Linked DNA regions of Homo sapiens: region 1 is linked to region 2. Evidence: fine-mapped expression QTL. A gene starts in region 2. The other region holds a variant in brackets. All regions are shown on one strand. Distances are from middle to middle.

What was found. PIP is the estimated chance that this variant, and not a neighbour inherited with it, causes the effect. A credible set is the group of variants that fine-mapping cannot tell apart.
Region 1: its variant is the best candidate, but not a certain one, in a credible set for the expression of PGAP6 in whole blood (TOPMed, PIP 0.72).

What each region holds. Positions count from the first base shown.
Region 1 is chr16:334,849-340,053 of GRCh38, forward strand. All of the region lies in intron 2 of AXIN1 (axin 1), which reads right to left. Among named protein-coding and RNA genes, the nearest start is that of AXIN1, 15 kb to the right of the region's middle. RefSeq lists enhancers at 1,381-1,675, 4,610-5,205. The variant C/T (reference allele first, on the strand shown) is at 2,739.
Region 2 is chr16:378,903-384,107 of GRCh38, forward strand. PGAP6 (post-GPI attachment to proteins 6) reads right to left here and starts at 3,076. Exons shown (of 13, transcript NM_021259.3): 1 at 2,799-3,076. The coding sequence starts at 2,919. LOC100134368 (a long non-coding RNA gene) reads left to right here and starts at 3,339. Exons shown (of 3, transcript NR_024453.2): 1 at 3,339-3,575; 2 at 4,388-4,527. RefSeq lists an enhancer at 2,169-3,068 and silencers at 2,503-2,622, 2,753-2,902, 2,943-3,172, 3,193-3,542.

The sequences.
Region 1 (5,205 bases), 44 kb before region 2:
GACACGCTAATTACACAGCACCCAGTACCATGGCACACTAATTACACACCACTCACTAGAGAGAAACACTCTGAGGCAGAAATAGAAAATCTTTATTTTTATGAGATATTTAATTTTTTTCTGCTTCTTTTAAAAGGAGTTTCACTTTACCCAAATGAACCAAACGCAACCAACTCATGAGAATCTACAAAACACTCCCATTGGCGTATAGAATGCACAGCAGTAAGTGGACACATAACAAAGCCAAAATAAAAACGGCCTGGACTGCTTTTATTTGTAAACTTTTTTGTTCACCATGGAAATGCTTTATCTTTGTGGTATCTCCAACATAACTCCACACTGCACCACGAAGCTATAAATTCCAAAGCTAATGGAATTTCCAAGCAAAGGTGCAAGCCTGACACTGCATGAGGGGCCCTCACGCCAGTGCCTCTACTTACGTCACCCTCAGATCTCCACACAGGCACACCTCGGCCACTAGTCTGTACCAGGACACACTAATAACACAGCACACAGTACCACAGCATGCCAATAATGCAGCACCCAGTATCATGGCACGCTAATTACACAGCACCCAGTACCACGGCACACTAATTACACAGCACCCAGTACCACAGCACACCAATAACATAGCACTCAGTACCACAGCACGCCAATAACACAGCACCCAGTACCACGGCACACCAATAACATAGCACCCAGTACCACTGCATGCCAATAACACAGCACCCAGTACCATGGCACCCAATAACACAACACCCAGTACCATGGCACCCAATAACAGCACCCAGTACCACTGCGCCCAGTTACACAGCATGCCAGTACCACACACACCAGCTCCAAGGCACCCAGTACCACAGGATGCCTAAAGAGTAACTGTTTCAACCAGAGTGGGAATATGGAAGACTTCAGGACACATGTCTTCCAGAGAAAAAATACTTTATCCAAGAGGTTTTACAGTGAGGAGAAGAATATTCACAAGCACTCTATTGAGCTGAAGAATATGGGAAGATTTAAGTTGGAAAGTAAAATATTTAATCAAATGAAAAAAACGGCCATTATTAACTCAAAAACAAACACACAAAATTGTACAGGAAAGAAAATGGCCAGGCGTGGTGGCTCACGCCTATAATCCTAGCACTTTGGGAGGCCAAGGCAGGGGGATCACTTGAGGTCAGGAGTTCGAGACCAGCCTGGCCAACATGGTAAAACCTGGTCTCTGCTAAAAATACAAAAATTAGCTGGGTGTGGTGATGCACGCCTGTAATCCCAGCTACTCGGGAGGCCGAGGCAGAAGAATTTCTTGAACCCAGGAGGCGGAGGTTGCAGTAAGCCAAGATGGTGCCATTGCACTCCAGCCTGGGATACAAGAGCAAAACTCCGTCTCAAAAAAGAAAATGATTGACCCACTTGGCTCAGAAGTGAAAGCACCATGCCCTGGTGCATGAACACCTCAGGGTAGGGGTGAGACAGGAGAGCAGCAGAGCTCTCAAAGAGCCAGTGGACACAAGATAGCAGTGAGCACGTTACTCAGAAAAGGCACTAAGGACCGAACCGTGTCGCCCAATTAATATGTGTCAGCCCTGACCATCACGTGGCTGTGCTTGAAGTAAGGAAGTGTTATTGTTAGATGAGAACGCAAACGTGGGGCCCTGACCCAAGAGGGCTGGTTCCCTAAAAGAACAGACACCAGCTGGGCGCGGTGCCTCACACCTGTAATCCCAGCACTTTGGGAGGCCAATGCGGGCAGATCACGAGGTCAGTCCAAGACCAGTCTGGCCAATATGGTGGAACCTCATCTCTACTAAAAATACAAAAATTAGCCAGGTGTGGTGGCGCATGTCTGTAATCCCAGCTACTCAGGAAGCTGAGGCAGGAGAATCATTTGAACCCAGGAGGCGGAGGTTGCAGTGAGCTGAGGTTGCACCACTGCACTCCAGTCTGGGCAACAGAGCAAGACTCCGCCTCAAAAAAAAAAAAAAAAAACAAAACATAAATACAAGAACTTAACCAGGTGTGGGCCAGGCACAGTGGCTCACGCCTGTAATCCCAGCACTTTGGAAGGCCGAGGCTGGTGGATCACAACGTCAGGAGATGGAGACCATGATGGCTAACACGGTGAAACCCCGTCTCTACTAAAAACACAAAAAAATTAGCCGGGCATGGTGGCAGGCGCCTGTAATCCCAGATACTGGGGAGGCTGAGGGAGGAGGAGCTCTTGAGCCTGGGAGGGAGAGGTTGCAGTGAGCTGAGATCACACCACTGCACTCCAGCCTGGGTGACAGAGCAAGACCCCGTCTCAAAAAAAAAAAAAAAAAAAAAAAAAAAAGACACATTTACGTGTATCCTTTTTAAAGAAAAAATGTGCTTTTGAATAGCTGCATATTTTAAAGCTTTTATTCTTTTAATAATATACTTTCTAATTATAAACATGCTGTTATAGGAATTTGGAAAATACAGAAAAACAAAGAAAAAAATTAAAAGCCCACATATCCAACTGTATGAATGCCACTGGGCATTCAAGTCATCCTATTTGCTGGAATATTACAAGCAGCACTCCTTAGGGTTATTTTAAATGTTTGTTTAGGAGCAGACACCAATCCCATAGACTACAGGTGAGCTAGTAAAGATCCAGAGTGGGTCAAAACCAAAAAAAAAAAAAAAAAAAAGCACTGGAGCAACCTCAAAGGAGGCAGGAGGGTGAGTGCCATGAGCAGGGCACAGGACCAAGCAGCCCA[C/T]TGCAGCTCACAGTGAGGACAGCGCCTGCCAGGACACCCGGACGCCCAGCTACCCGGCCACCTGGCCACCTAGCCAGCTGAGCCAAGAGCTGAGCCCATTTGCCAGCAGATGCTTCAACGGATCACAAAGGAAGCCCGTGGGCCGAGGCTGCAATCCACACAAGCCAGCGTTCAACTCCGGACAGGGCCCAGGGTCCTTGCTGGAGGAGAAGGGGCATGGAATCTGGGCCCTATGGGCACTCAGCCGGGCGTGCGGCCTCTGGGGGCCCCCTGGACGCCACAGCAGTATGGCAGAGCTGTGTGTGTTTTCACAGAGCCCTGTGACCAGTCTCCATCTCTCAGGGAGTGGAGAGACCGAACACCTTCTGGAGCTAATGGGTTCTGAGAGAACCCTGAGTGGTTATTCTCACAGATGTGACACGGGGAAAAACTGAGGTGAAGCTGCTTCCCTCCACACGCACAAGTAGGCAGCGGAGGGGCCCAAGAAAGAGCCAACAGGCGGCCCTCTCTCCCTGACAGCCACCATAGCCCAGCCTGGCCCCCACCTCCGATAACTGCAGGGTACGCTGCTACAAATGACGTCTGCGTTTGACAAGGATGAGCAGAACCGGAGCGTGTGCGTCAATTCAAATCTGTGACACTGGCGCAAAATGTGAGAATGGGCTGGGGTGCCAGGCGGCCAGTCACGGCTAGGGCACAGTTCCAAGAAGGGCCACAGGGGCCCGCAGGGACACTTACCCCAAGCCCTCCAGAAACAGCTGCTGCAGGTCAGCACCAGCACCAGGGCCAGGCACACAGTCTCATCGGCACGTCTGCCACTGGCTGTCTGCAAAGTGCTTCCCTTTCACAACCCACCCACACAGCTCAGGACTGAGGTCCGCCCAGGCAAAGGGGCCTCTCGGTTCCAGAATCCTTTGGCCTGACAGGCAACTACAGATACTTTCGTGGACTCTGCTGAAACCTGTCTGAGACTATGGAGCTTTACGTGGCTAAGGAAGAGAAAAAATATGTTTGGAGTCCTTGCCCACTGACAGGTGCATAAAAATACAAGATGGACTGGGCACAGTGGCTCACGCCTATAATTCCAGCACTTTGGGAGGCCAAGGTGGGCGGACCACTTAAGGTCAAGATTTCGAGACCAGCCTGGCCAACATGGCGAAACCTTGTCTCTACTAAAAATACATAAAGTAGCCAGGAGTGGGGGCATGCACCTGTAATCCCAGCTACTCGGGAGGCTGAGACTAGAGAATCACTTGAACCTGAGAGGCAGAGGTTGCAGTGAGCTGAGATCGCGCCATTGCACTCCAGCCTGGGTGACAAGAGCGAAACTCCATCTTGGGGAAAAAAAAAAAAAGTGGGATGCAAGCTGGTGCTGTGGGGACAGAGTCCAGCAGAGCACCAGCAGAGTCCAGCAGAGTCTGGGATTACAGGCATGAGCCACCGTGCCTGGCCAGGAATCATTTTTAAAGTTTTCCTTGGACATCCACAAACAAAAAAAATTTCCCTTTGGGCAGGGTGTGGTGGTTCACACCTGCAACCCCTGCACTTTGGGAGGCCGAGACGGGCAGATCACTTGAGGTCAGGAGTTCAAAACCAGCCAGCCTGGTCTCAAAAAAAAAAAAAAAAAAAAAAAAAGGCCGGGCGTGGTGGCTCACACCTGTAATCCCAGCACTTTGGGAGGCTGAGGTAGGCGGATCACAAGGTCAGGAGATCGAGACCATCCTGGCTAACAAGGTGAAACCCCGTCTCTACTAAAAATACAAAAAAAAAAAAAATTAGCCGGGCGTGGTGACACGCGCCTGTAGTCCCAGCTGCTGAGGAGGCTGAGGCAGGAGAAGTGCTTGAACCCAGGAGGTGGAGCTTGCAGTGAGCCAAGATTGTGCCACTGCACTCCAGCCTTGGCGATAGAGCGAGACTCCATCTCAAAAAAAAAAAAAAAAAAAAAATTAGCCAGGCATGGCGGCAGGTGCCTATAATCCCAGCTACTGGGGAGGTTGGGGCAGGAGAACTGCTTCAACCTGGGAGGCGGAGGCTGCAGTAAGCCGAGATGGTGCCACTGCACTCCAACCTGTGTGACAGAGCAAGACTGTCTAAAAAAAAAAAAAAATTCTCTTCAGATCTGCTCAAACAGGGGAAGCAAATACCCCAAAGGAGACTAGAAACCCCCCACACCCAGGCAAGGGGAGCCCACGCAAGGGGCAGTATGGCTCACAAGCACCTCTGCCCCCTCTGCACCACAGCAGAGGTCCCCTTAACAAGACAAGCCTGGGGGCGACCCCACCCTGGGCCACACCCTTTGCACAGGAAGCAGAGTTCACCCTTGCAACACAGCCCCTCTGCAGCCGGGCACCTTCAACAGCACCACCGCCTGAGGTCCAACGGACATGGAAACCCAAAACCACTCCTCCACAGACAACTCTGTACACATTTTGGGCCCTTTCTTTTTCTTCTTCTTCTTCTTCTTTTT
Region 2 (5,205 bases):
ATGGAGAAGGGCCCGTGGGAGACATCCTGCTCATGGCCCCAGGCGAGGACTCAGGCTCTCACCCCCAGCCCCCCGTGCCAGCTCCAGCCTCGTGCCCTTGCGACCTTGGGCATCCTTCCCTCCCTGGGTCCCAGCCTTCTCCTGGGTAGGTCAGGGCGGAGGGCACATCCCTTTGGGGGCCCCTCCCTCCGAGGTTAATTAACGACAAAGGCTTCAGAAGGAAAAGCACAGTGGACACAGCAGGGGGCGGGACCCTCCCCTCTGCTGCAGCTCCCCCTCCCCACACACTCAGGAGCGCTGCCTAGGTCTCACTGGAGAGTGGCTGGCTCAGGCCCAGGCCCCTCCTGAGGAGGGAGACAGGTGAGCAGCAGGCTCTCCTGCCAGCCTCGTGACCCTCCCATAGAGGCACCAGAAGAAACGATACACCTGCCAATAGCAGCCTGTCGGCAAATCCAGGCCAAGCTCCAGGGGAACCTGGCGTGGCGACTGGGCAGGGGCTGGCCAGGCTCCACCCACGACGCACTCCAGGCTTTCCAGGTGTCTGCTGGCCACCAGGTCCCACCCACCAGGCTGTGGCCTGATAATGTGGGCAGAGAAAGCTCAAGTGCTGGGAGCTGAAGCAGGACAGCCCCCCAGGACCACGGTGTCCCGGAGAAAGCCGGCCTCTGCGGGGGCAGGCAGGGGAGGCCACCTGCAGCACACACAGCCCCTGGGCTGCTGGGGCAAAGCCCTCAGCCCCTCTGGCCCTGGAGCGCCAGCCTGAGGGCACCTAGAACCCAGCTGGTGGCTGTGAAGTTTCAGCAGGTACACAGAGATAAGAGATCTGTTCAAGGTTGTCCTAACACCCAGTCCCCGACTCCCAGGGCTCACAGCCCCTCCAGGCCTCTCCCAGGGCTCTGCAGCCCAAGCTCCCTGCCCAAGTTGCCCACACATACCAGGCTGTTAGGGGTGCTCTGAGCCGAGGTGACCACAGGGTGAGGAGGGCCAGCTACACAGCCCCCTGCCTGCCCCACAGCCCCTCCACGGACACAGGGCTGGGTGGGGAAGGTGGTAATGCAAGTCCCTGGCCCTGTCCTGGGAACCTGAGTGAAGACCCCAGACCCACGTCCTCCAAACCGGGACAGGCACCCATGGGAGACCCTGACCACCCACAACGCCACAGAGCACTTACTCCTCGGCAGGCTGGGAGGAGTGAGGGGCTGAGCCAGCACACCAGGCCTCTCCACTGTCCACACACAGGGGTTCCATCTCCCAGGAACCCCTCACCAGGCCTGAGTTCTGGGACAGGAGAATTTCCTTTGCCAGTTTCCAACGGAGTAAGGTTTTGGTATTTCTGAGGGTCTCACTCTGTCACCCAGGCTAGAGTGCAGTGCCATGAACACGGCTCACCGCAGCCTCAGCTTCCTATGTAACTGGAACCGCAGGCTTACATTACCACACCCAGGTTATTTTTTTTTCTTTCTGTCTTTCTTTTTTTTTTTTGAGATGGAGTCTCGCTCTGTTGTCCAGGCTGGAGTGCAATGGAGCGACTTCGGCTCACCGCAACCTCTGCCTCCCGGGTTCAAGCGATTCTCCTGCCTCAGCCTCCCGAGTGGCTGGGATTACAGGCATGCGCCACCACTGCCGGCTAATTTTGTATTCTTAGTAGAGAAGGGGGTTTCTCCATGTTGGTCAGGCTGGTCTCGAACTCCTGACCTCAGGTGATCCACCCGCCTCAGCCTCCCAAAGTGCGGGATTGCAGGCGTGAGCTTCGCGCCTGGCCATGGAGCAATTTAATCCGGGGCACGGTCCTCGGGGAAAACTGCCTTTCATCTCTACCTGTGCCAAGCTCAGAAAGCAGGAGGCACAGCCCCCGAAAGAAACAGGAGCTCAAAGGAGCATTATTTCAGGGGCAGGGGAGGGGAGGGGCTGGGGGCCGGGAAGTCGGGGAACAGCACCGCATCAGCTGCCGGGCACCTGGGCACCCGCGTGGCTGGGGACGTGTGGGAACTTCCAGCCGGCCAGAAAGGACACGGCCCCTCCAGAGTCCCAGGCCACAGAGGCCGGGGCAAGTCCTCACCATCTCAGGGTGGCCAAGGCCTGACGGTCTCCACACCCACGTCCCTACCCCGTGGAAGGGCTACGCCTTCTCCCTGGTCCAGCCGCCTCCTTGGACCTCAGTCAGGGACGGGGACCCTCAGGGAACAGAAATGCAAAGGGAGCCCGGCGAGTTTCCCAACAAGAGGGGAGAGGGGCGCCCTTTCCTCAGCCCCTCTTCCGCCAGCTGGGAGTCCCTCCTCCCAGAAGCCGGGCCGGCGGCAGGAAGCGGCCGTACCAGGGCTGGGGGTCACTGCGGAAGGGCTGGAGCCATGACGCCCACGGGCCCCCGCTACAGGGTCTAACAACTTTCTCCCGGCTCTGCCCCTCTCTCAGGCCGGACCCGGCCGGTGAGCTCACGGCCCAGCCACTCCTCCCAGCTGGAGTCCCGGGCAGAGTCCCCTGGGCCCCTCCACTTCCCCGCGCCGGGCGCGCCGGACCTGGGCGCTCTGGGAGGAGGAGGGAGGGGAGGGGGCGCTCCAGGGGCCGATGTGGCCCAACCCCGATCGGGGGACCGAGGAGGAAGCGCGGGGTCCCGTCCGCCTCGACCCCTAGGACACGAAGCGCCCCAAAGGGCCACTGTGCACCCCCAACCCGCGGCGGGGACCCCCAACCCCGCGCCGGCGCCAGATGAGCGCACAGGTGCGCCCGGGGTGTCACAATCCCGCCCCGCCCGCAGCCCCGGCCCCACGCCCCCGATGGCGCCCGCGCCTCCCGCTCACCGCTCTTCCCGCTGTAGCCGGCGGAGGCAGGCGGGGGCCGGGCAAGCAGCAGCAGCAGCAGCGGCCCCGCCACCACCGCGGCCACCGCCTCGCCCCCGGTCCCGGTGCCAGCCCGGCCCATGGCTCCGCGCTCGGCCCGGCGCTACCCGGCCCGCGTCCCGCGCCGCCGGCCCCCGCCGCCGCCCGGGCAGCCTCTGCCGCCTCCGCCTCTGCCGCCTCCGCCTCTGCCCCCGGCGCCCATGGCCCGGCCGGTCCCCGCCGCCGTCGCCCCGGGCACTTCCGCCCGCAGGCCCCGCCCCGCAGGCCGAGCCGGGAAGGCGAGGGCGGGGTCGGGGGGCGGGACCGGGGGGGGCGCGGACGCCGGGGGGAGGGGTCACGTGGGGCGCCGGTAGGGGGGAGGGGTCACGTGGGGCGCGCGGGGGACGGACCGGGGCGCGCGCGGTCCGGGGGGACGCTGGAGGGAGGGCGCGGGATGGAGGGATCGCGGGGGTCCCAGGACGGAGAGGTCGCGCCGGGCGCGCTCGGAACACGCAGGAAATTCTCCCCGAGGCGTGGGCTCCGCGGGGCTTCCCCGCCGGTTCGCTGAGTCCCAGCTCCGCTCGGCCGGGACCTCCGTGGCAGGCTCGGGGAGCCCGCGGGGGGCAGAGGCGCCGACCTCCGCCTGGGACCGAGAGGAACCCGCGCCCTGCCCTGCCCCGCCCGGCGCGCGTGGGCCTGAGTCAGGCGCCTCAGCACGGGGACCCCCGGGCCGGCCTTCACGCCGCAGAGCCGCTGCAGGTGCGTGTCAGATCCACGCTTTTATGCACAGACGAGAAGGCTGCTTGTGTTTAGGGACTGTAGTACCCGATCGGGGTGGCGGTTCACACGGGTGCGTGGCATCAACTCCCGGCGCTTTGCACCTGGATGGATTCCCACCATGTAAGATTTGAGCCGAAAAAAGGAAGCGATAAAGCCTAGAAAACTCGGGGAAGCTTTTTCCGTCTTAGGGCCAAGTCGGCTTTTCCAAGCGTGGCACAGAGTCCAGAAGTTCCGCCGCGTCGTGGGTGGGAGGGGGGTGGGGGCGTCTGCAAAGCCAAACTGCATAAGCGAAGTCCAAAAGACGAGCCCCCGACTGGGAGGTGGGGGACACAGCTTGCAGCTCACACCGCAGAGCTCACCTTAATAAGACTAGTAACAGTGCAGTAATAAACAGCTCTAAATCAATCACAGAAACGCTCCCCTAGAAAATACTGAAGGACAGCTGCCAGGGATACGCTGATCCTCCTCCCTCAGCGCAGAAATGCAAATTAAAAACTACTCCAGCTACTCCGGAGGCTGAGGCCAGAGAATCGCCTGAACCCGGGAAGCGGAGGTTGCAGTGAGCCGAGATCGCGCCACCGCACTCCAGCCTGGGCGACAGAGCGAGACTCCGTCTCAAAAAACAAAAACACAAAAACAAAAACAAAAACAAAAAACAAAACACTAAAGTGTCCTTCCCAGGATGTGAGGGTAAAAAGTTTAAAAAAAAAAAAAATTAAAGGAAAACCCCATTAAAGTGACTTCTTTTTCCTTTCACCTAACACATTGGCAAATAAAAACTGTACTAACAGGTGAGACTGTGGCCCACAGACACTGCTTGCAGCAGGCAGAGGATGTGGGAGCCTCGTGGGAACCCCCCCGACTTGTCCACTGAAGTAACAGCAGCAATGACCTTCCCTCGGGAATTCCACCTCTGCGTTTTTCCCTCCAGGTACGTTCACGGAAGTGGCACACTGCATGCGTCCAGTGAGTCAATGTGGCACCGCCTACATGCGTGTCACTGGCCGGTGGGACATTCAAATCATTCATACGGGGTCTAAACGAGACAGAGCGTGGCCGAGACAGGAAAGACAGGAAGCGCTGTGCTGCTTGGAAATGGTCCACCAGGTGCAGCAGTAGCTGCAAGAAAGGAACAGGAAGAACGGTGTGTTCAAAGCTCTACCATTTGTGTAGAAAAGGGAGAAAAACACGTTTCCTTTGTGTGTGTCAAAGGCATCGAATGTCTGGAATGATCCAGCACCGGCTACACTGGTTGACCTTGGAGGAGGAGAGGCGGGGTGGGGATGGGGATGGCCGCAGGGACCATACCTGTTTGTACCTTTTGAACGCCGCAGCGGGTGGTGAGGGTTTACGGAGCGGGGGAGGGGAAGCTGACTCCACGAGCCCAGACCCCTGAAGGCCAGAGCAGCGGAGGTGGAGGGTGTTGGCCGGGGAGGAAGGAAGCCCCGGCTGAGCCTTAAAGAGACCCTTTGTTTCCCGGGAATCCCAGCTGGGCCGTCCTCAGCCCCGACTGAGGGGAAAGGGGGGCTCCCAGGGGTTCTCATTTTAAAGGCACGGAGGTCAGATTGCAGATTTTGCTGAGCCGTGATTTGAGTGTGCTGTGCCGGAC